5 separate regions of the Homo sapiens genome follow, and all the other regions are linked to region 4. The links come from fine-mapping of genetic effects on gene expression. A gene starts in region 4. Each other region holds a variant in brackets. All regions are shown on one strand. Distances are from middle to middle.

The links.
Region 1: its variant is fine-mapped to the expression of TDP2 in skin (TwinsUK, PIP 0.95).
Region 2: its variant is fine-mapped to the expression of TDP2 in whole blood (TOPMed, PIP above 0.99).
Region 3: its variant is fine-mapped to the expression of TDP2 in whole blood (TOPMed, PIP 0.98).
Region 5: its variant is fine-mapped to the expression of TDP2 in atrial appendage (GTEx, PIP above 0.99).

What each region holds. Positions count from the first base shown.
Region 1 is chr6:24,713,075-24,718,179 of GRCh38, reverse strand. C6orf62 (chromosome 6 open reading frame 62) reads left to right here. Exons shown (of 5, transcript NM_030939.5): 2 at 1,856-2,032; 3 at 3,740-3,862. Among named protein-coding and RNA genes, the nearest start is that of C6orf62, 3.5 kb to the left of the region's middle. The variant G/TG (reference allele first, on the strand shown) is at 2,332.
Region 2 is chr6:24,692,129-24,697,233 of GRCh38, reverse strand. The region is part of intron 1 of ACOT13 (acyl-CoA thioesterase 13); the gene reads right to left. LOC124901278 (a long non-coding RNA gene) reads left to right here and starts at 1,463. Exons shown (of 2, transcript XR_007059508.1): 1 at 1,463-1,890; 2 at 2,489-5,105. The variant A/G (reference allele first, on the strand shown) is at 2,818.
Region 3 is chr6:24,757,007-24,762,111 of GRCh38, reverse strand. No RefSeq gene overlaps it. Among named protein-coding and RNA genes, the nearest start is that of GMNN, 15 kb to the left of the region's middle. RefSeq lists a silencer at 4,077-4,278. The variant A/G (reference allele first, on the strand shown) is at 2,059.
Region 4 is chr6:24,664,371-24,669,475 of GRCh38, reverse strand. It overlaps TDP2 (tyrosyl-DNA phosphodiesterase 2), which reads left to right and starts at 2,577. Exons shown (of 7, transcript NM_016614.3): 1 at 2,577-2,778; 2 at 2,865-2,950. The coding sequence starts at 2,614. ACOT13 (acyl-CoA thioesterase 13) reads right to left here and starts at 2,399. Exons shown (of 3, transcript NM_018473.4): 1 at 2,132-2,399. The coding sequence starts at 2,212. It overlaps LOC124901279 (a long non-coding RNA gene), which reads left to right. Exons shown (of 2, transcript XR_007059509.1): 2 at 1-359. RefSeq lists enhancers at 2,361-2,655, 2,187-2,858, 2,859-3,531.
Region 5 is chr6:24,581,970-24,587,074 of GRCh38, reverse strand. It overlaps KIAA0319, which reads left to right. Exons shown (of 21, transcript NM_014809.4): 5 at 3,373-3,471; 6 at 4,729-4,826. Among named protein-coding and RNA genes, the nearest start is that of KIAA0319, 62 kb to the left of the region's middle. The variant T/C (reference allele first, on the strand shown) is at 2,937.

The sequences.
Region 1 (5,105 bases), 49 kb before region 4:
TGTGAAATTGTAATCAGACTGTTTATATGCTAAAGTTTATCCTGTTTCTTAAACTGCGTAATGTAGGTAACCTTTTCTCTTACATTTAATGAAGTAGAATACACCTTTTAGGAGCAATTAAATACTGAAATGGTTAATTTGTGTTTAGAAGTGTGATTTTCTTTTTTACTTAGAGTTCATTTTGCCTTGTATAGAAGTACAGTTTTTAAAAACTCAAAATGACCTAGAGGAAGTTTCATTTTTAGGGGCGGTGGAGGTCTTAATCAGAATTAGTTCCGCAGTTAAATAGCAAACAGTAAGTTGTGAGTAGTCAAGGATGGGATGATAAGAGCAGTATTTTTTGCAACTTAAAATGAACATTTTCTTAAATTATCAGCAAGGCTTATTTGACCAAAGATGAGGTTATGAATGTAAGGAAGTGCTACTTGGATTTTGGTGCTTAAATTGTTAGCTAATTTCAGATCAGAAATACAATCTTAGTGTGGTATCTATTAAGTATCTGGAAGTTTTCCAGGTTTCCCCCTACTGTTTAACTCTTATTATTTTTGTTGCTGAGACAGGCCTCACTGTATTGCCCAGGCTAGTCTTGAACTCCTGGGCTAAAGTGATCCTCCTGTCATGGCATTTTAAAGTGCTGGGATTACAGGCAGGAGCTGCCACGCACAGCCCCAACTCTTAACTCCTAAAAGGTTATTTGTATTTAAGAACATTCTTAGCTGCTGAAGTATAGCATTGTGAAGTGATTTTTAAGTAATTTTTGAAGTGACTGTCCCAAGATTGGGTGGTATCAAGGACTTACATCTCCACTTTTGTTTTGTTGACAAGCTGACTCAAAATTGATGAGATTGGATTTTAGTTGAAGATGATACAGTGTATGCTCTTTAAATAAATCCAAGATAATAAGTAGTGAGACCATATCTTTGTATTTAATCTATATATTGCCCCAAATTGCACCATCTTAATTCTTTAACACCAACGATAATCTGGTTTTATTCTGTGAATGGACAGTGTCCATGCAGTTGCCCTGAATAATTCATGATATATACTTAATAGTACAGAATTTTAAAAAGTAGTTTAGTGATGCGTACTTGGTCTTGAGTAGTATTAAAAGAGAACTTGGTGTGCTTCTTTTTAGTCTTTCAAATATTGATGGTTTTGGCTGGGTGCAGTGGCTCACGGCTGTAATCCCAGCACTTTGGGAGGCTGAGGCAGGCGGATCACTTGAGGTCAGGAGTTCAAGGCCAGCCTGGCCAAATGGTGAAACCCTGTCTCTACTGAAAATACAAAAATTAGCCAGGTGTGGTGGCGCAGGCCTGTAATCCCAGCTACTCGAGAGGCTGAGGCAGGAGATCCCCTCGAACCCAGGAGGCAGAGGTTGCAAGTGAGCCAAGATGGTGCCACTGCCCTCTAGCCTGGGCAACACAGTGAGACTCCATCTCAAAAAAAAAAAAGAAAAACCAGAAATATTGATGGTTTTGATAATGTAATATTGAGAAAGTAATGGAAATTGGCCCATATAAGGAATAAAACTATTCATTTGTCTGAATAGCGTTGTTTTAAAACTGGTGAGATTTTTAATTTTAAGAAGTATTGTCCAAAATAGTGCTATGGATACCATTATGCTATAAAACTCAAGCATTAAACATTCTAATGACAGTTTGTACATGTATGGTTGGAGGGGGAGGTAGGGGAAGAACAGAAGGAATTACCTATCTGAAAATGTGTTTTCAGTGTATAAGTTACTGCAGACAGTTAAGAATTTTGTGGAGTTAATGTTACATGACATTGTAATATGAACTGAGTGTTAAAAGGCTGTGCTCCCTGTGGGTTAATACACCATTTTCTTTTCTTCTAGAAGAAAAAGTCAGCACTTTTTGAAGTGTCTGAGGTTATACCAGTCATGACAAATAATTATGAAGAAAATATCCTGAAAGGTGTGCGAGATTCCAGCTATTCCTTGGAAAGTTCCCTAGAGCTTTTACAGAAGGATGTGGTACAGCTCCATGCTCCTCGATATCAGTCTATGAGAAGGGTAAGTTCTGCCTTAAGTCTTGACTTGATAAAGTTTCTGTGGATTAACCTTGCATTTCCCCGCCCCCCGAACCCCCCTTAAAGTGGATAGTTATGATAGTGACCAGTCTCTTCAGGTAAATTTGTCTTTGTGCCATGTTGATAACTGGGATCATGACTTTAAAGCATTGTGTTTATAGGATTAGAAAAACACGTTTTTTTACGCCAGACCATTCTTATGTGGATGAAGTATATAAAGGGATTTCTTTAATCTGTGTTAGGTGTTGATGATCTCGGACTTTTTTTTTTTTTTTTTTTTTT[G/TG]AGACAAAGTCTTGCTCTTTCGCTGAGGCTAGAGTGCAGTGGCATGATCTTGGCTCACTGCAACCTCTGCCCTCGCGCATTCAAATGATTCTCCTGCCTTAGCCTCCCGAGTAGCTGGGACTACAGTTGTGCGCCACCATGCCTGGCTAATTTTTTGTGTTTTTAGTAGAGATGGGGTTTTGCCATGTTGGCTAGGCTGGTCTGGAACTCCTGACCTCAAGTGATCCTCCTGCCTTGGCCTCCCAAAGTGCTGAGATTACAGGTGTGAGCCACTGCACCCTGCCAGTAGCCAACTGTTTTTAATAATTTAAGTGTTATGCAGAAAGTTTAAAAATTTTTGAAGTAGGTTTGTTTTTGAAAACTTGACCTTGAGTAAAACATGGACAACTTTGTTGTATTAGGCTCATAATATTGTGTATTATTATTGTGGATAAATGTCTTATGTCTCCGTTTATTGTATTTCCTTTTTTGGGGGGAATATGAATATAAGGAAGTGCTTCCAGCTTTGTAAACTTCTGCAACATGTTAAAAGTTAATCTGGGCATACCTGAACCAAGAGATCCCCACAGTTACTTGGGGAGAATGCTGGAGATAACCAGATACTGGTCTGGAAGAAATTATGGACCTTCAAAAATTAATATGCTGGCTACAATAATGAAGCAGAAGTCAGGAATGGAGAAAAGTAGTTTTCTATCAAAATAAAAATAGCATTTCAGCTATAATAGGATAGTGATTCATATTAGGAGTTCTAAGACATCTTTTTAAATAGATTGATTTTTAAAGGTGGAAATAAAGGTTCAGGGTCTGACAATACAACAGATATCAGAGATTTTGTTGGAGTTTTCACCATGCACTGATAAGTCTAGGTCTTGGTGTTAGGAGCATTGGACTGAGTGTATGTGACTCTCTGTAAGATAAAAATTAAAATTAGAGCCAGGCACAGTGACTTAGCCTGTAATCCCAGCACTTCGGGAGGCTGAGGTGGGTGGATCACCTGAGGTCAGGAGTTCGAGACCAGCCTGGCTGACGTGGTGAAACCCCGTCTCTATTAAAAATACAAAAAATATTAGCGGGGCATGGTGGCACACACTTGTAATCCCAGCCATTCGGGAGGCTAAGTCACGAGAATCGCTTGAACCTGGTAGGCGGAATTTGCAGTAAGCGGAGATTGCACCATTGCACTCCAGTGTGGGCCACAGAGAGGGACTCTGTCTCCAAAAATAAAAAATTACATCATGAGCTATTCAGATTATAAACTATTATGTTTACTTCCTAAGATATAAAATGATATATGGTAGATCTTTTGTACTTATAAAATGTTTTTATAGGGGAACCCTATAATTTGTGACATGGCTTGATGTAGCTGTTTCTTTAAAAGTAAACTTTTTTTTTTTTAATCATTTTATAGGATGTAATTGGCTGTACTCAGGAGATGGATTTCATTCTTTGGCCTCGGAATGATATTGAAAAAATCGTCTGTCTCCTGTTTTCTAGGTGGAAAGAATCTGATGAGCCTTTTAGGCCTGTTCAGGTATTTTGGTCTAAAGTGTGATGAGTATTTCAATATGTGAAAACTACTAGAATATAATAGGGTCTAACTTGAGAAATTCTTTGGGAAAATGGTTTCTGATAGTTTTATTTCACGAGTCTCCCCTATTTAGAATATTGTGATGCAAGAGAAGAAAGCGTTTGGATTATAGAATCTCTTGACAGTGTGGTGGTTCCACCTGCCCAGTGTGGCTTTGAAATTATGACTAGAGAAAATCTTTTAAAGTGGACATTTACTGATTTATAGAGGGGCCCACAGATGAGCTTCTGAGATCTGTAACTCTTGAAGCCTTCACCACACATCCTTCTAAAACCGTATATTTAACTGCTGCTTCCCAAAGGAATGTGATCTGAAATGGGTGAAGAAATCATTTTGTAGAAGTTGATCTGTATATAAAATTATAGAAGAAAGAAGTAAATTTAGTAGTCATTCTTAACCTTAAAATCTTGCTGACTTTTGACTGTTTGTCATGGTATACTAGACATTGCTCAAGTGAATCCCCCCTCTAGTGTTAAGGGCATTTACTCATGTTGAACCTAGTTTTATTTACAGTATATTTGTATGCATAGAAGATGGAGGTCCACCAAAGTGTTAATTATGCTTAGTTGTAGGTCAGGTATAGCTAACTTTCCTTTTTTAATATATATATTTACATTTGTGTTTCCTTTATAATTTATGGCATAGATTGCCACGATTTTCTTAAGTATACTTTTATAATCAGAAAAATGATATTAAGGACTCATTTTAAGTACACTAAATCAAATATTAGAAGGCTTCTTTATTTTAAGCTAATTGTGAGGATTATTTGTCATTTAAAACTTTTGCTTCTACTTATTACCCTGAAGTATCTTTGTGGTGCTTATGTTTTTCACAGACTGTATAAATTGATATACTCTCCCGCCCCATGGTAATGTTGCTACACATAAGCTCTAATAATTATCATTTTTAATGTTTTAAGATTAATTCAACTAAGTTTTAAAAATAATCCATTGGTTACATACATAAGAAAGTACTGTATACAGATTCCCCTGACTTATAATGGTTCGACTTAAGATTTTTTCAACTTTACCATGATGTGAAAGCCATATGAATTCATTGTGCTCCTCGATTTATGATGGGACTACATCCAGGTGAAGTCATTGTAAATTGGAATTGTTGTAAGTTCAAAAGTCACTTTTTGATTTAAAATACGTGTAACTTACACTGGGTTTATCAGGATGTAACA
Region 2 (5,105 bases), 28 kb before region 4:
CTATAAACCCATGTTAGTATAAAGTGTAAATGTAACAATAAAATCCAGCAAAGTAAGTTACTGCTTTTAAGGTTTTGGCCCATTTATAGTAAGTATAAGGAAAAAGTATTACATGAAAGATAAACATATGCAACAATGCATTTAAAATTTTATGATTTTTGGCTGGGCACGGTGGCTCACGCCTGTAATCCCAGCATTTTGGGAGGCTGAGGCAGGTGGATCACGAGATCAGGAGTTTGAGACCAGCCTTACCAACATGGTGAAACCCAGTCTCTACTAAAAATACAAAAATTAGCCGGGTGTGGTGGCGTGCCCTTGTAATCTCAGCTACTCAGGAGGCTGAGGCAGGAGAATCGCTTGAACCCGGGAGGTGGAGGTTGCAGTGAGCTGAGATCATGCCATTACACTCCAGCCTGGATGACAGAGGGAGACTCAGTCTCAAAAAAAAAAAGAATTTATGATTTTTATATCAAACATCTTTAAAAAGGCAACTTATGGAAAGGTAAGTTTTCTTATATATTTGTGTTTAAATTACTAGGAAAAACCATCAGGGTATAATATCATGGTATAAGTTAGAGCTGAGCTGTGAGTGGAATGTGCTGCATCCAAAACAGTAATTTCCACCCTCACTAGAGGTGTTCAGGAAGAATATGGATGAGTATTTGGTGTGTCTGTTGTGTTTGGGAGTAGGGGGATGTCTCAAGCATTAAATGGTTGGTTATATTCTAGATAAGTACCATTTATTAGGCACTTTGATATGCTAGGCACTGTGCCAAGCACTTTACATATACTATATAGTAAGGAAGAGACAACATCCATTTTGCAGAGAACTTAAATTCAGAGTGATTTATTTTCAAGATCACCCAAGATGTGATGGAAACTGAGATGTAGATGTAGGTCTTTCCACCTTCACATCTCCCAATCACTAACTATATATGAGTAACCTCTAGGTATGACTCCCACCAGGAAGACATTTGAGAGTTTCACAAACCACCTATTTAGTGGTTTTATTGTTGAAGGCCCTGAAGGAAAACAGAACCACGCGATATAAAACATCCTAAACAATATTATGTCATGTTTTGCAAAACAGGTAAATCAATGTCAAAAATAAATTTTAGAACAGGATTTTTGTTGTTGGGTTTTTTGTTTTTTGTTTTTTTGTTTGTTTTTTGTTTTGAGATGAAGTCCTTTTCTGTTGCTGAGGCTGGAGTGCAGTGGCTTGATCTCGGCTCACTGCAACCTCTGCCCTCCAGGTTCAAGCAATCCTCCCGCCTCAGCCTCCCAAGTAGCTGGGATTACAGGCACATGCCACCACACCCAGCTAATTTTTGTATTTTTAGGAGAGATGAGGTTTCACCATGCTGGTCTCGAACTCCTGACCTCAGGTGATCCACCCACCTTGGCCTCCCAAAGTGCTGGGATTAGAGTCGTGAGCCACCGCGCCTGGCCTATGATCGTCTGTTTATAGCAATAAATGATCTAGCCACAAGATGTCCTCATAAACTAAATAATACACACCGAGCAGGAATAAGGTGTAAACTTAACCTCATTCACACATTTATGTGATTCTTTATAGCAGGCATTGGCAATGTAAAAAATGAATGAAGTTTAATCCCTGCTCTTAGCGGGTTCAGTGTCTAAAGGAAGAGACAAGTACAAAAACTGCAGAGGAAGAAACTGTTGTAGACAGAATAAATACAGGTTTCTTGGAGTAAAGATATCTAACTTTTAAAAATGTATATTTCCAGGGAAAAGACATTAGGAAAGGCTTCCTGGAGAACGACATCTGAGTCTTGAAGAACAGGCAGGAGTTATCCAGGTGAAGATAAGGGAAAAAGCCAGGCAGTTGAAGAAATAGAACTAAATACGAGCGGCTTGTAGACAGCAAAGGTAGTTTTAATGTGTTGTTTTTGTTTTTGTTTTTTGAGACAGAGTCTCGCTCTGTCACCCAGGCTGGAGTGCAGTGGTGTAATCTCGGCTCACTGCGACCTCTGCATCCCAGGTTCAAGTGATTCTCCTGCCTCAGCCTCCTGAGTAGATGGGACTACAGGTGCGTGCCACCATGCCTGGCTAATTTTTGTATTTTTAGTAGAGATGGGGTTTTGCCATGTTAGCCAGGTTGGTCTTGAACTCTTGACCTCAGGTGATCCACCCACCTCGGCCTCCCAAAATGCTGGGATTACAGGCATGAGCCACCGCGCCTCAGTTTAAGTGTATTTTAAGGCACAGTTTGTTCAGTAAAGCTTAGTTCTTAAAGTTCCATTTGATTACCTAACTTTGGCTGGGATGACAAAATGTAAGACAAATGTCAGTTAGATTTTTCTAGTACAGAATACTGGTTTTGATTTTTCCCCCCAACTTGAAAGGCCAAAGGACATACTAATAAAATTGTTTTAAAATTTACATTGGAATAGAGAGAATTTTTTACTGGGCAGCCTGATATGGCAATATAAATGCCTTTATATGTTCTCAATTCTTGTCTCCTCAGGTCAAATAAGAGAATTAAACCAACGGAAGATGATGAAGGAATGTCCTGCCCACCCTCCCAGAGCTAATAAGTAGTCTTGCTGGGGAAGAGGCCAATGCAAAGCTAACTTCTTTCTGATGAGGAAGGGGAGTAGGGAGAGAACCTTGTGAAAAAAACATCTCAGCCTTGGTAAAGATGGGCTGTAGGGCACACACTTGTTTATTCAGTTATATCAACATAGCTAACTCCATGTTAGAGACCATGCTGAGCAATTTGACATGTGCTGTCTCAGTGCTGCCAATGTTTGAAGTGAATACTATTGTCTCCATTTTACAGATGAGAAACTGTCG[A/G]AAAGTTTAACTAGGATGTCTCAGGTTTAACCATTATGCAAAACAGCCTACCCTCAAATATCACCTGGACTGCTACAGACAACTGGGTTCTGATTCCTTAGGTGTCTTGGTGAAGATGGTATGGAGGCTTTTATGATGTCAAGGGGTCAAAAATTTACCTGCCATGGCCTAACAATACAGAGAACTGTCCAGATGTGTTCAGTCCCAGGATCCTGCAGGTTGGACAATTGCAGTAGGTTGGCAAGAACTTTTATGGCTCAGCACTATTTGCCACAATGGGCTCCTCAGTATATCATAACAATTCTTACATGTACACACACATATACAATAATCTGTCCCTTTTATATATGGCCTTATATCGTGCTGTCTCTTCCTTGCACTTCATGCATTCATATGAGTTTATGCAACTTCGTCTGTGTAATCCCAGCACTTTGGGAGGCCGAGGCAGGCAGATCACTTGAGGTCAGTAGTTCAAGACCAGCCTGGCCAACATGGTGAAACCCTGTATCTACTAAAAATACAAAAATCAGCCAAGCATGATGGGGCACACGTATAATCCCAACTACTTGGGAGGCTGAGGCAGGAGAATCCCTTGAGCCTGGGAGGTGGAAGTGGAGGTTAGCCGAGTTCGCACCACTGCACTCCAGCCTAGGCGACAGAGTGAGACTCCGTCTCAAAAAAAAAAAAAAAGACTCAGGTTGCCATAGCCCCTCACCCTCCCTCTCCCATCTGAGATACAATTCATCACAAAGAGACACTCCACATGACACAGAGTCTCTCCTTTCCTCACTTTTTCAGCAAAGATAGATAGGGAGAAGGGCTGCCTAATAACAGCAGTGAAGATGCTGTTATTCATCACTGAGATGGTCCTTTATGAAGCTGAGAACCAAGAATTCTCTTTAAGCCTTGGCATCTCAGATCATTCTGGTCTTTTTTTAAAAGGGTTGCATTCTGCTGAGCAGTGGGATAAACAAGCCACTGCCATCACTGTAACTGCTGCTGGCTGCTATGCAGCTCACCACCACTGCCTCCACTGCCTCTGCTAAACAGATAAAGGAATGTATGTCTCTGGCTCAGTAAGGGTGTCTGTAATGGGCCTCAAGCACAGGAGTGTGACATATGGTATGAGAAAATCTGTGTACATAAACACGTGAGCCACCCCCAAAAGAAGACTGTCTACAGAAGCACAAAGAAAAACAGACAATCTTAATGGATGACAATTTTGTATGTGTATATTTGTGAATAAGGCTGTTTTCAAGCAATTTTCCCTGACCATGGATGTTGCTAACTTTGTGTGTGACACTGCAGATGACAGGAGGTGTGTCTAAGGACAGTGTATGAATGCACCTTCATATAAGCAGGAAAGGAGGTAAAAAGACAGGATGTGGCAGTGTGATGGGGTAGCAACAGCAACAAACACAGATGACATTTATGTTCAAGGGGCTCTAGAAAGGTAGATGCTATAAAAGTACCATGGTTCAACCATATTGCTGTTATCAGTCCAGCATTTCTGCTTTATAATGTATGTTTCAGTAGCTTCATTACACAGGTGGCTTCCGCTTAATGGTTGAGAGTACTGGCTCTGGAAGCAGACTTAGGCAAGACCCTGAACTGAGGTTTCCCCATTGATAGAGATAATGTACTGTACTGCCCTTATAGGGTTTTGTAAAAATTAAGATTAAAATTCAAATTAGGACAAGGCCTGGTATATCACAGGTGATCAAAACATTTTAATTTTGGGAGACTGAGGTGGGAGGATTGCTTGAGCCCAGGAGTTTGAGACCAGCCTGGGCAACACAGCAAGACCCCAACTCTAGAAAAATTTTTTAAAATTAGCCAGGCATGGTGGCATGTGCCTGCAGTCCCAGCTCCGAGGGAAGCTGGGGTGGGGAGGATCGCTTGAGCCCAAGAGGTCAAGGTTACAGTAAGCTGTGATCGTGCCACTGCACTACAGCTTGGCTGACAGAGTGAGACCCTGTCCCCAAAACAACACCACTTTAATTTGCATCCTTATTATAAAAACTATTATCAAACAGAAACTTTGGTTTGTATAGTTTGGCATGAATTTTCTTAAAATTATTTCTATTGCCGAGGTCAACTATGACCTAACTACAAAACTCAAAGGACCCTTGGCAGCCTCTCTTTCCCTTAAGTGACCTCTCAGCATTTGGTGACGTCGTGAACTTTTCCTAGCCTTCCCTTAACTCCCATGACACCACCTCCTCCTGGTTTTCCTCCTACTCTCCCAGCCACTCCCCAGTCTCCTTTGCTGGCTCTTAAGTCTTAGA
Region 3 (5,105 bases), 93 kb before region 4:
ATTCATGGGGAAGGTGGAGGTGAAGCTGAGATCTGCTGTGTGGAGATCACATGGTGAGAGAGGAAGTGAGAAAGAGAAAGGTAGGGGAGAGGAGAAGGTGCTGGGCTCTTTTTCACAGCCAGCTCTTGATGGAACTATAGAGTGAGAACTCACTCACCCACCACCCACCCAATTAATCTATTCATGAGAGATCTGTTCTAATGATCCAAGCATCTCCCAGTAGGCCCCACCTCCAACACTGGGGACCAAATTTCAACATGAGATTTGAAGGGATCAAACATCCAAACAATGACACACATATATGAAGACAGTAACCACTGCAATTGTGCAGAATTGACCAGCAAAAGACCGTTTTCAGGCAGTAGTGATGGCAGTGGCTGCTGTCACTGGCTGCAGCAGGGAGGCGAGGCGGGGCTGCAGACACCATGCAACTGGTGGGAGCCCCACCCTCCTGGGCGGGGCTACAGCTGCCCAACTGTGGCTGTGGATGGAAGCCTCCCTGTTCTCTTGGAGGAGGCCAGGAAGAGGCAGGATCTGCCCACTTGGGTGCAGCTGCAACCACCCAACCTGTGGCTGCAGACCTAGGCCTTCCACTTCACGGAGCAAGCAGGAGCCGGGGAAAAGCAGGAACTCCGACCCTTCCGAGTTGGTGGGGCAGGAGCTTTGCCGGTGCAGCTGTGGCTGCCCTCCCAGGCTCAGGACCTGGGCATCTCTGCAGCCTGCACCCTCGGGAGCCTGGGATGTTCCCTCCCCCGAACCACGCTCCCCTTGGGGGCATGGGATACCCCCCTTGGCCCCGCCCCATCCCTGCAGGCTCGGGGGTGTCTGCTCTCGCTGCCCGGCCTTTCTGCTCCTGGTGCCAGCTCTGATCTCCTAGCGGGGTTTTGGAGAGCTCCCTTTAGGAGATCTCATGAACATTTGTACTCACTAAAAGAAAGTCTGACGGGAGGGGTCAGCCAATATTCACTGCAACAAGCATCCCCATTGGGTACAGTTCCCTGTGGACCTCTCTGAGTGGGAGGAACTCACTTTGAGCTGGGCTGCCTTGACTCCTGACTGGGGCAGCCAGGTTGGCTTATAGCAAGCAGTGCAAACCACAAGCGTTTCACCTAGAAAGCTTAGTAGTTAGGACTGTAGGCTTGCCACGAACGGAGAGTGCAATGCAGTGCTCTTCAACTTGGTAGAAATGGCTGCTGGGGAGAGAGGGAGAAAGAACCAGGAACTATGGGATTAAGGGCCCAGTGAGTGTTGAAGACCACAACAAAAGAAAAACTTTAGACAAAACAAATGTAACAGTTTACTGGAGCAAAGAACAGTCTACACATTGGGCAGCCCTTAGAACCAGAAGTTCAGAGAATACAGTTCTGCAACCTGGGTATTACTTACAGAAAAAGGCTGAAGAGGTGGGGAGCGATGGTTCACACCTGTAATCCTAGCAATCTGGGAGGCTGAGGTGGGCAGATCACTTTAGGTCAGGAGATGGAGACCAGCCTGGCCAACATGGTGAAACCCCATCTGTACTAAAAATACAAAAATTAGCCAGACGTGGTGGTGCACACCTACAATCCTAGCTACTACTCGGGAGGCTGAGGTGGGAGAATCCTTGAACCCGGGAAGCCGAGGTTGCAGTGAGCCGAGATTGTGCCACTGCACTCCAGCCTGGGCAACAGAGTGAGACTGTCAAATAAATAAATAAATAAATAAATAAATAAATAAATAGCCAAAGATAGCAGAAACAAAGAACAGAGACTGGTTGTTTCACAGTTACTTTCCTTGTAAAGGTTAAAGCAGAGGGGACTTCCTTGTCATGCCAGCTAAAACTGGCCTATCTGGGGATTTGGATTTCCTGATTTCTTGGAAGGTCAAGCAAACAACTTGATTTTGTCTTGGTGGTGTGGAATTATTTTTACTTTTTATTTTTGAGACAGTCTCGCTCTGTCACTCAGGCTGGAGGGCAGTGGCGTGATCTCCACTCACTGCAGCCTTGGCTTCCAGAACTCAAGGGATCCTCCCATCTCAGCCTCCCGAGTAGCTGGGACAGCAGGTGTGCACCATCAC[A/G]GCTGGGTAATTTTTTCATTTTTTGTAGAGACGGAGTCTCCCTATATAGCCCCCACTGGTCTCAAACTCCTGGGCTCAAGTGATCCTCCCACCTTTGCCTCCCAAAGTGCTGGGATTACAGGCCTGAGCTACAGCGCCTGGCCAAGGTGGCCTGGAATTTTAGCATAAGTGACTCCATTTTGGTTTGATCTACTGAGGCCTGGTGAAGGAGCCCAGTCTAAATCAATGGGCTCCTATAAATTTAATTTAACAACCACAAGTTTCTTTAACTATAGCTTAGGGTAATTTTTTTCTACTATGACTTCAGTGGGGAGGGAAGGCAAATTGTTACTGCTCTCTAAATCAGGAGGTAGCAAACTTCTTTTTGTAAAAATTCAGATTGTAAATATTTTAGACTTTCTGAATCGCATACTCTTTGTTCATTCATTTGTTACAAGCCTTAAAATTACATAAAAAGCATTCCTAGCTCCCAGGCAGTACAAAAACAGGCCTTGGCTGGATTTGGCCTGAAGACTGTATTTTGCTAAACTTTACTCTAGATAATACATCCATTAGAGATAGTAAAGTCTCTTTTCTTTTTTTTTTCTTTTTCCTTTTTTTTTGAGATGGAGTCTCACTCACTTGTACTATGGCTGGATCTCGGCTCACTGCAACCTCCACCTCCAGGGTTCAAACAATTCTCCTACCTCAGCCTCCTAAGCAGCTGGGATTATAGGCACGCCCATGACACCGGGCTAATTTTTGTATTTTTAGTAGAGACAGGGTTTTGCCATGTTGGCCAGGCTGGTCTCAAATTTGTGACCTCAAGTGATCTGCCACCTCAGCCTCCCAAGGTACTGGGATTGTAGGTGTGAGCCACTGCATCTGGCCAAGTAAAGTTACTTTCTACCATTCCAAGAAAGGCTATTTTCTTGAGAAAGACTGGATAAATAATTTAGAAATTGGTTTGTGAATCATTTTCCTCCTACCTGAATGAAGAGGGAGTTCTAGTGGCAAGCAAGGTGTAGCTACATAGACTTATGAAAATAACTAAGACAGGTACCTTCAGATGAAGGGAAAATTAGGGGAAATTACATGATTTCTTATTTGTGTTATATATTTGCTCAATGCATTTTCTTTTGGGAATTTATGAGTTAGGTATGAAGTACACCTTTGGCAAACAGATTTTAAAAATTCAATGAAAAGAAGCAAAATCTACCCCATGACTTAAGACTCCAAAAGTGTTTAAGAAAATTAGAAAAGCAAGCTCTAGTTTAAATTTTGAAAAATCTCAATGTGAGTACAAAGTTTTCTTAGGAGTTCAGAAATGTAAAAGGTTTATACAAAAGATGAAAGAAAGAGTATATTTCCCAAAACCTACATGAACAGTGTTTGAAAAGCTAAAACCAAGAACAAACTGAAACTTAAATCTTCCTCCTTAAAAGGAAGTGTTTTTTAGAAGTAATGGTAGGATTGAGTGCAGTTAATTATTAGGATTAGGTTAGCACTGGCCGCATAATTTTTGGAACCCAGTGCAAAATAAAAATTTGGGTCCCCTTGTTAAGCAAAAAATATTGATAACTTCAAGATGGCAACAGCAGAGCATTGTATGGGGACTTCTGAGCGATAGCTCAGTTCACATGCTCATGAAGGAGGTGTAAACCAAAAATAAATTCCAAGGCCCCCCAACCATCTGAATGGCCTCCTAAGCCAGGGCACTCTAAAATTCAACCTGAAGGACTGGTTCAGGCCATGACAGAAAGTGAGGGTTAGACATGCCTCATTACACCTCTCTGCCATTAATATCAACACAGACCTTAAGTCTGATAAGAAACAGTTAGAATCTATTCTCTCTGAAGCCTGCTACCTGGAGGCTTCATCTGCCTGATAAAACTTTTGGTTTCCACCACTGCTTTTGAGATGTACCATCTTTCTGGACAGAACCAATGTATAGCTTTAATGTATTTGATTGATGTCTCACACCTCCCTGAAATGTATAAAACCAAGCTGTGCCCCGACCACCTTGGGCACATGTTCTCAGGGCCTCCTGAGGAAGGACTGTGTCACAGGACATGGTCACTCATATTTGGCTCAGAATAAATCTCTTCAAATATTTTACGGAGTTTGACTCTTTTCGTCGACAGACGCCCTCGGCTGGGGACTCAAGAATGCCCAAATCCTGCCTCGGCCCAGCCATCTCCACTTCCTTTGAGGTTCTAGAAGGAGGTTTGCAAGATATAACAGCATGTAAGACACCATAGCAGGTTCCCCTTTATTTTCAAGTAGGTTCCTGTAACTGCCTCTTTAGGGATCCTGGTTAAGCTATGCTGCAGCACAAAATTTAGGCTCAGGACATAAGTAGAGTCTTTCTGCCCAGCAGAATTGAGGATTCCTGAAGGTTTAGAGAAATAGAGGAGAGAAAAAAGAGCAAATGTCTCTGCCTAGAAGGCACCTGCTGTCCCAGGAGAAGTAAAAGGGAAAAGTGCACTTTAGTGACCTCTCACTGTAGCAGAAGTGTGCCATTCACTGTTTTAGAACCTAATCAGATTAGCGGCGCCTCTTCTAGGACAGGAGCAAAGATGGAGATTGGAAAAGAAAGACTTTCTCTTGTTTCTTCTTCAACCTACTGTGAGGGAAAGGGCTTTTAAAACTACATTTGAATTACATTTGAATTTTAAAAAATAAACAGGATGAGCAGTATTCTCTGCTGTTTTGATGCAGTTAGCATAAATGCTAAGAGATAACAATGAGCAAGGAAAATAACCATTTATTTTCCTTCATCTTTTTTATAAAGCAATATTTAGTAATCTGCAGTTTTAGCAAAGAAAAAAATTGAAACTCAATAAACGAGTATATAAGAATAGGCCAGGTGTGATGGCTCACACCTGTAATCCCAGCACTTTGGGAGGCCAAGGCAGGCGGATCACTTGAGGTCGGGAGTTCAAGACCAGCCTGGCCAACATGGAGAAACTCCGTCTCTACTAAAAATACAAAAATTAGCTGGGCATGGTGGCAGGCGCTTGTAATCCAAGTTACTCAGGAGGCTGAGGCAGGAGAATCGCTTAAAC
Region 4 (5,105 bases):
ACTACTTAAGACAAACTTGCCTCCCATTCTATTCAAAGTCATCCCTCTGCTCATTGAGATAAATGTGTATCTGACTGCCTCCTTAGGAAAGGTAAATCAGAAACTCAAAAGAATGCAACCATTTGTCTCCCACCTACCCGTGACCTGGAAGCCCCCTTCCCGCTTCAAGTTGTCCCGCCTTTCCGAACCCAACCAGTGTTCATTTTACATATATTGATTGATGTCTTATATGTCCCTAAAACGCATAAAACCAAGCTGTGCTCTGACCACCTTGGGCACATGTTGTCAGGACCTCCTGAGGCTGTGTCACTGCGTGCGCATCCTCAACCTTGGCAAAATAAACTTTCTAAATTAACTGATACCTGTCTCAAATTTTTGGGGTTCACAAGGTTTAGTTATAAATGCTTCTTATGGAGCATGATTTTCTTACAAGCGAGGCAGGAGAATCGGATCTGGAGGCAGGGAACCTAGGGCTGTTTCACGCTGACTTCCTAGAACTAAATTGAAAGTAAAACCCTAACTTCCCACACCAAGTAACAAAAGAACCAGAGGCTTCTCCCTTTCCAAACCCCCACCTTTTCTGTGTGGCAGATGGGAAATTGAAAGTACCTCTGATTGGTTGCAAAAAGCAAAATTACGCTAAGAAGTAAGTTATCCCTTAAAAAAAATTATTCTTTCTGCAACCAATCAGATCTTCCCATAGGAGTGTAACTATGTAACTTCACCATCTGATTGCACGCCACGTCTTCGTTTGCATATAAGGGCAACTTTGTAACTTCACTTTAGCCTTTCATTGGTTGCTTTTCACAGCCAATTGTGGGTCACCACTTCATTTACATGAGATGAGTACCAAGTGGCCAATAGGAGACTTCAATGGGGTATTAGGGCCCCTGAGCTGCTGCTCCACACCCCAAACACAGGAGTGTCCTTTCATTTTCAGTAAATCCCTGCTTTTGGCGGGGCATGGTGGCTCATGCCTGTAATCCCAGCACTTCGGGAGGCCAAGGCAGGTGGATCACCTGAGGTCAGCAGTTTGAGACCAGCCTGACCAACATGATGAAACCCTGTCTCTAATAAAAATAAAGAATTAGCCAGGCTTGGTGGCGCATGCCTGTAATCATCCCAGCTACTTGGAAGGCTGAGGCATGAGAATCACTTGAACCCAGGAGGCGGAGGTTGCAGTGAGCCGAGATCGTGTCACTGCACTCCCGCATGGGCAACAGAGCAAGACTCCATCTCAAAACAACAACAACAACAAACACCTTCAAGGTCTGGCGTGGCGGCTCACACCAGTAATCCCAGCACTTTGGGAGGCGGAGGCAGGCGTTTCACCTGAGGTCGGGAGTTCGAGAGCAGCCTGACCAACATGGAGAAACCCTGTCTCTACTAAAAGTACAATATTAGCTGGGCATGGTGGCGCATGCCTGTAATCCCAGCCACTCGGGAGGCTGAGTGAGGCAGGAGAATTGTTTGAACCAGGGAGGTGGAGGTTGCAGTGAGCCGAGATCGCGCCATTGCACTCCAGCCTAGGCAACAAGGGCGAAACCTCATCCTAAAAAAACAAAAACAAACAAACACCTTCGGGCTTTGTGAGTGCTGGTCTCAGAAAAGCACTCAGTCTTCCTCCAAGGGCTAACTTACTTCTTCAGGAGTTGGGTGCCTTTGAGAAATTTCCCAAACCACTACAGAGGAACAACTTCTCCCTTCGTTCACCACTCTACCAAGCACTTGGCTTTTGTACCTTATTGCAATTATTTATCTTCTAATCTTCTAGAGCCTAGAGAATTAGACTGTAATGTGCCTTAAATGCAGAGGTTTCTCTTACTCTTCTCTGGAGCAATGCAGACGTTTGTTGGTTGAAGGATCAAACTCCAAAGTCCCTCCCAGCCTTGGAACTGTCTCCACGAGTCATAACCATACTTATCTATGTTTAGATAGAGAACTTACGCGTTCGACCCAGCATATTTAGGGGCTCCATTAAAGTAATAATCATTATTACTAAGGTGAATTTACAGGCGTACTAGAACACAACCTAACAAGAGATAATTATTCAAAGCTCACAACGGCACCAAGCACGGTGCTTTCTTTTCCTTCATTAGAAGCCACGGCTTCTCCCCTACCTTTCCCATACCTTTCCCAAAACTCTCTCAAAATTGCGAGCCTTGGTCATGGCCTTTATCACCTCCCGCAGAGACTGAGTCATGCTGGTCATCGTGGACGGTTTTCCAGCCTTTGGGCTTTGCGCAAGAACGAACTTCGGAAGAGCTGGAAAGTCCAGAAGTTAGTGAAAGAAGGAGGACACAAAGGGCGAAGAGCCCGCACCCTTCTCCGCCCCTAGGAGCGCAAGAGGCCGGGAGTCAGGCGAGCTGGCAGCCCCGGTGGTCCGCGATTTGCTCACTGACTTTCCTCGCACCCTTGTGACGAAGCGCGCATGCGCGCTTCGCACCCACCGCCCCGGCGGCTCCCTTGCGGCGCAGCTGCACCAGTTTTCCGAGAGCAGCGCATTTCCCCGCCGGGCGGTTGATGCGGGAGCGCCATGACACAGGCGCCTGCGCAGAGCCGCGCGTTGGCCTCCTGTTCCGCTTAAAGGGGCGGTGCAGAGGCGGCAGGAAGATGGAGTTGGGGAGTTGCCTGGAGGGCGGGAGGGAGGCGGCGGAGGAAGAGGGCGAGCCTGAGGTGAAAAAGCGGCGACTTCTGTGTGTGGAGTTTGCCTCGGTCGCAAGCTGCGATGCCGCAGTGGCTCAGTGCTTCCTGGCCGAGAACGACTGGGAGATGGAAGTACGCTTTCGCTGTCCTCGCTTCCGGCTCCATTACCTAGGTCGGTGGAGCGCACAAACCTCATCCCTTGTGCCTTTGTTTTTCAGAGGGCTCTGAACTCCTACTTCGAGCCTCCGGTGGAGGAGAGCGCCTTGGAACGCCGACCTGAAACCATCTCTGAGCCCAAGACCTAGTAAGTGATGAGGGGAGCGGGAGCCAGTCCGCACGGAGGCAGTTTGATACCAGGTAGCCCTGCGCGTCCTGGGACCTGCCGTGGAGCTGGGCGGACGATGCTGAGGCAGATCTCCAAGCTGCGTAGCCAGAGGAGCAGGGCTTGCGTTGCTGCTGCTGCGCGGAGTTGCGCCCCAGCAGCGGATCTAACACTGCACCAGACTGTCGCTTCGAACGTGATTTGGGGTCCAGGGAGGAAAAGATGGAAATGTAATGTTTAACTCAAATGAAAGGAAATAAGTAAGCGAGAGGTTTGAAACAAATGAACGAAGGCTAAACCTTCTATCGAAAAATGGCAACTTGGAAGTCTCCTTGCTTCCTGTATTGTTTATTTATTCTAGGCCCTAGGCTGACCGGCCAGAATAACAGGTTTGTTGTTGTTGTTATTTTTTTTTAATGCACACCTACTCCTGTTATTTCAGTGCCCCTCTCCAGTTCCTGCACTTAAAAAGTGTAGCTGCCTTACAAGGCCCTCTACTATTTGGCTCCATAACTTAGAACCTGCCTTTCCAGGTTCCAGGCCTATCAAACTTTTACTTTTTTCCAACGGGTCATTTTCTCCTGTCTTTGAAACTTCGTAAAGATCTTTATTACCTGTGCCTGGAATTTTTTTCTTTTCCCTTCCTTGCTAATATTTGTCTTAAAGCCCCAAGCTGAGACATGATTTATCTCTAGGAAGCTTTTCCTGATGTCCTAAGTCTGGGTAAGAGTCCCCTTTTAGGTACTCTTATAGCATCCTGCATGACCCCTGTTACAATACCTTAGTCCGTATTATAATTGCTGTTCATTATTTTATGTCTCCTACTAGACTGCACATCTAGTAAGGAGTATCTGTTTTGTACATTGTTAATTTCCCAAAGTCTGACACAACATTTGACACATAATAAGCTCCCAATAAATATTTACTGAATGTATAAAATTCTCCCAGCTATATGTACAACCTGTAAAATTGACTGTTCATAGTGGAGACTTTATTTTCCCTTTGGTCTTTTCAGCTACACTGGCTTACAGATGTGATAAGATATTTTCTTTAGGTTCCTTTCTCTGTCTTGCCTCTTGTTGGGGAATTGTTTACTCACCCACAGTGATTTGTCTCTGGCTCCCGTTTTACTAACCAGAGCAAGTTGGACTAGGAGGTGTTTGCCTAGCTCAAACTGGCCAGTCAGATCCTCTCCTTGGTTTCAGAATTAGGACCAAGAGAGTCAAGTCTGAGTCTTCCTATGGAGCTGGAACTGTAACATGTTAACTTAGCACCTGTGAGGATTCATACATATCTTTTTTTGTGTACAGAGAAGCTGAGAACAGAGGTCTGCAGAGAGACAATGAAGCAGAGGGAAGTTGAAGTGTAGGATTGAGAGAAAGCCCTTAACTGCCCTTCCTTAAACATGGCTGTATTTCTGTACCAGGCTCTGTGACATGTTTGTTTCCTTATAAATTCTCCTGTTTTGGTCAAACCAACCTGAGTTAATGTCTGTTGGTTGCAACAGACTATATTGTAACCAATAAATAGTAACAAAATAAGTGGATTTCCTGTAATAGGCCCTCAGAAAAGATGCGGATCAAGCTGATCAATGGTGTCATGGCTATTAGGATTCTCTTACCCCGGAATGGTAAATTGGCAAAAACAAGCAAAGGTGTTGATTAGGCTGTGGTCTCTTGTCTCTCAGAACTCAGGTCAAGTATGAATGAGAGTGAGGTTTTAAAGTTTAGTTTGCTCAAGAGAGAAAAATGGGGAAGGGGCAAACTTCAGCGTGTTTCTAAGGCCTGTGACCTGATTAGATTTTTGATGTTGGCTTTAGCAAAAATGAAAGGGAAAAAAAAATTGATTGGAAGATTTTATGACCAGAAAAACTCAACCCTGCTGAGCAAGGGCATTGGCTGTCTTAAATGAATGGCGCAGGAATCTCAATTCTGGAGTGAATTCCTGGGATATCAACAAAAATTGAAATTGAACACTAAAGTGATTTAGTCCCCTACATTAGAATCTATCTTCAGTGTCTCTGATGAGAGACAAGGGAAATCCTCTTAAAACAGCTATGCTGAATCTTAGCTGCATATTGGAATTATCTGGGGAATTTAAAAAAAAAACCAGAGATTCTAATTTCATTAGTCTTGAG
Region 5 (5,105 bases), 82 kb after region 4:
TAGATGAGCAGTTGGGCTGAAGATAAAGGATTACGAGTCATCGGTGTGGAGGTGATAGTTGCAGACACGGGGGACATAGGAGATCATCCAGGGAGAGAGGGGGGTTAGCTGAGGAGAGGCCTGAGGACTGGAACTTTGGGGACATTGTTCTATAAGGAGCTGGAAGTGCAGAAGGAGCCTGCAAAACTGATTGGGTAGTTGTGCCAGAGAGGTAGGAGATAAAGAGGAAAGCTAGAGGGAGAGAGTTCTATGGAGGAGGATAGAATAAGTTTCCATCTACCCTTCTAAGTTCTAGGCTAGTGCCCCTGTAACAAAAGATAGATTAACAAGAGAGAAAAAAAAAACAAGTTTATAACATGTACATCTTACCTATACGTGGGAGATGCCCAGGGAAATGAGGAAATCTCAGAGAGGTTTATTATATAAGCTTATATTATATAAGCCTGGAACTCTGGCTTATATAGCATCTTGAACTAAAACAAGGAAAGAGGATTGTGGGGAAGGCAAGTGGCCAAAGGTGCCCAGAATAAACGAAGTAAGCAAGAGTGAGGTTCATTATGCAGATTTGTCAGGACCTTCTCTATGGATGTGGATCTCTTGGAATGTAGTCACCCTTCTCTTCCTGGTATAGAAGGAGAGAGACCCTTACAAATGGAGATTTCCTTTATAGATATAAATTCCCCTTACAAAGGAGTAACTTCTACTCTGTTTTCAGAGCTCCTCTTGGTCTGCTGTTTCTTCAAAACAAACAAACAAACAAACAAAAAACACAGCTCAAAATAATCCTTGTATAAAAGAGTTATAGTTGCAATGGCATATTCTAGTTTCCTACAGTCTGTGAACCAAAAGTATCTGAGACAGGTCTCAATCAATTTAGAAAGTTTATTTTGCCAAGGTTAAGGACTCACCAGTGACACAGCCTCAGGAGGTCCTGATGACATGTATCCAAGGTGGTCAGGGTACAGCTTGTTTTTTTTTGTTTGTTTTGAGACGGAGTCTTGCTTCGTGGCCAGGCTGGAGTGCAGTGGCGTGACCTTGGCTCACTGCAACCTCTGCCTCCGAGGTTCAAGAGATTCTCCTGCCTCAGCTTCCTGAGTAACTGGGATTACAGGCACCCATGACCATTCCCGGCTAATTTTTGTATTTTTAGTAGAGACAGGGTTTCTCCGTGTTGGCCAGCCTGGTCTTGAACTTCTGACTTCAAGTGATCCACCTGCCTCAGCCTCCCAAAGTACTGGGATTACAGGTGTGAGCCACTGTGCCTGGCCACCTTGGTTTTATACATTTTAGGGAGACATAAGACATCAATCAGTATGTGTGAGATGTACATTGGTTTGGTCCAGAAAGGCATGACAACTGGAAGGGGGTCTTTCAGGTCATAGGTATATAAGAGACAAATATTGCATTCTTTTGAGTCTTTGATCAGTCTTTCACTGAATACACAATTTACTTGCCAGAGGGGGTAGAGGAATAGTCACTTATGCCTTGTCTGGCTCAGTGAATCTGTATTTTTTCATAAACAATAGGGCAGAGGAAACAATTAGATATGCATTTGTCTCAGGTGAGCAGAGGGATGGCTGAGCTCTTTCCCCCACCCCCTGCACCTGTGAAGATAAGCTATTGATTTACATTGCCAGGGTGAAATTCAACAAAACTGTTTTAGGGCAAAGATCTTGAGGCCCACAAGGAGTTTCTTGTGGGCAAATTATAAGGAAGGCATGTAGCTTTTTTTTTTTTTAATCTTTGTAGGTATCTCGTTTAGGAATAAAATGAGATGCGGGTTTGCCTGACACAGTTCCCAGCTTGACTTTTCCCTTTGGCTTAGTGATTTGGGGGTCCCGAGATTTATTTCCCTTTCACAAATCATATTTTGGGGTGGCATGTTCTGGTCTCCTGTAGTTCCAAAAGGGAAGACGTATCAAAGCTCCATGTGTCGCAGAGGCTGTGGTGAGGATTGCAAAGCTTCCATTAGATTTTCCAATAAGGAAGTTATTAGAATATGCTAGACGTAAGGGTCATGTTTCCTGAGCTTTTCTGTGGGCCATGTATTTTGGAGATTACTCTCTCTAACTTTTGTATTTACTTTGAGCCTGAGCTTCCATAGAGAGAAAGATAATAGTGGGAGAGAAGCTGTGTAGTATACGGAAAAAGAAACTGGCCTGGGAGTTTGGCCCAGGATCTTTGGGTTTTAATAGAACCTACTGCATACAGTTGTAATGAGGATTAAATGAATTGATCATTTTAAAGCCCTTGGGGCAATGCCTGGCACAGTTTAATCCGGTATATAAGTGTTTGTTGAAATGAATACATTTAAATTAAATATTGGTGGACCTATTGCTAATTACCATACAGCCTTGGACAACTTTGCTTTTCTAGGATTTAATTTCCCCACCTATAACATGATAGGTTTGGATCAATGTCCCTTCTAGGTCTACAGTTGCTGACTTTCAGGATAAAGAGTTAGTGAAAATGACAAGAGAGGAGCCAGCAAAGCCACTGAGAGCCTCTGCAGCTGATCTAGGAGGCACTCGAGGGACTGAGGACTGAGAGGAGGGGAGTGGATTAAATGAACAACCTGTCTGACATCTCCTTGCAGCTGATCCCTCTGGAGCACTCAGCTTTTTTTTTTTTTTTTTTTTTTTTAAATCTTTGCTTTTCTCTGTGTAGTATCTGGACATATCGCAATATATTTTACAAGTGAAACTAATGTCCAATGGAGCCAAACCGATAGAATTTATGAATATATCAATGTAATCTGGTTACAGAGAAAGTAAACAAGTATTGTTCTGAATGCTTACTTGGTGGCTAAGCACTTTTGATAAGAGTTAATGTTCCTGCTGCTTAAGTTAAAATAGGTTTTTTATATTGAGGGTGACTGGATTTTGTCTTGGAAAGGTTCCAAGTACAAGGCCATTAGCAGTAATTCATGAGGCTAC[T/C]ATCAGAACTGAGTGGAGTGTGACTAATGAGACAGAAACACTTAGGATTACACTCAATCTTTTTATAACTAAAAATAGCTCACACCAGGGCGTCAAGAAAAGCTGATAGCAAGGGAGAAAATGGACCCAATTCACAGTTGCATGAAACCTGTTTCACGCAACTCTTGTCACTCAATACGTTGCTCAGTCAATTTGAATCATTATTTTTGTCACAGTGCCAACTCATATTTGTGGTTTAAAACCCTGTACTATAATATAGTGTACAGTTCAATTTCTAGCCAGAGGAAAAACGTGCCTTAGCTAAAATCTTATGAAGAACTATTACAAAAGCATATGTTATTTTAATTTATGGATACCAAAAACAGATCTAGTGTAGAGCAGTAATGTAACACATTATATTATATAATTGCACGTATTATTTCTAATTAACTTTTAGTGAAAGAACTTACGGTATCGGCTGGAGATAACCTAATTATAACTTTACCCGACAATGAAGTTGAACTGAAGGCCTTTGTTGCGCCAGCGCCACCTGTAGGTGAGAGTTTAACCTTCCTCCCTGACCACTAGGAACTGGGGTGTTTTTCTTCAGCAGGTCCTTACAGGCTATTTACAACGCCGATTCTTTTTCACAGTATTGCACGACGTCACAAACAAAGGTGGAGGACAAGGCTTTGATTATTCTTAAGCATCAACATTTGTTGAAATAGTTTCAAATGGAGTAAGAATCTAGGAAATTAAATACAGTATATATCGTTTAATTGGTCAGGATGGAAAGTCATAAATTTCTGATGATGCAAAGCAGATCAGGAGAGGCTGCCACGTACCAGTTCTTGAACTGTAATAACCCATAGAACCTGGGAAGATTCCACCGGGATGAGAGGGAAGTGGCGTGCACCCATAGGTTTGTTTGCAGATACTGTGGCATTGACAATCACGGCTCTCAGGTTCTCAGGATGCCTCACACTAGCTGCTCAAAAAAATTTATTCAAAATGCTCTTTCTTCTACTTGTCCAGTGCTCTACCATTCAGTAAGCATTTGACCTGGGACCTGTGGCCTGTCAAATGCATTGTTTTTAAGGTAAACTCATTCTTAAGGTGTTTGACTATTTCTCATTCAGGTTAGTTCCTTAATTCATTTTTTTCTCCACCACATATTGGTCAAAATTTTATACACAGAGATGATAATATTTGGCATTTGCATTTTAATCCTTTGAGGTGAGGTACCTTATATTTTAACTACTAATATCTGCAGCTGGGAGACAGTTTCATCTTAACATAGACATGTTTATACTGTTTTTGTGTCCTTAAATAAACCCCTACAACAGATCAAATGAATTGAAATCTCCTTGCCTTTTGTTAAAAAGAGAAAAGCACAATGTATTATACTATGTTAAAACTGATATGGATAGTCAGATGTAGCCCCCTAGGAAAAAACTCATCACATACTAATGGTTAAGTTAGGGAGGTTTTTTTTTTTTTAACTTTATACATTTTAAAAATTTCCTGTAAGACGTATGTTTTTATAACAAAAAAAGAAATGTTACATTAAGAAGATACATGTTATCTTGGCTGATAGTTGAAAGTCAAGTTCATAAGATGATAACAAGAGTGAGGGGATAAAAACAAATAAACAAAAAATATATATATAAGTTAAAAAAAAAAAAGAAAGCTGAGTTGAGTATATCTAAGGTAATCTGCACTGGTGGTTTAAAGGCTGTCATCTTCCCTCTGCCCAGGTTATCTAGTGTCCTCTCAGAATTTATAACTACTCATATTTATTTTTTGCTCTCAGAAACAACCTACAACTATGAATGGAATTTAATAAGCCACCCCACAGACTACCAAGGTGAAATAAAACAAGGACACAAGCAAACTCTTAACCTCTCTCAAGTAAGTAACTGGAGACTGGTTGTGTCTAACAGCACAGCGTAACGGCATAGAGCTCAGTTAATACCTTCTTAGCTACTGAACCCAAACGTCTTTCTTCTTTTTGGGGACAGAGTCTTGCTCTGTTGCCCAGGCTGGAGTGCAGTAGCGCAATTACAGCTCACTGCAACCTCTGCCTCCCGGGTTCAAGTGATTCTCCTGCCTCAGCCTCCTGAGTAGCTGGGATTACAGGTGCACGTCACCACACCCGGCTAATTTTTTTGTATTTTTTGTAGAGGTGGG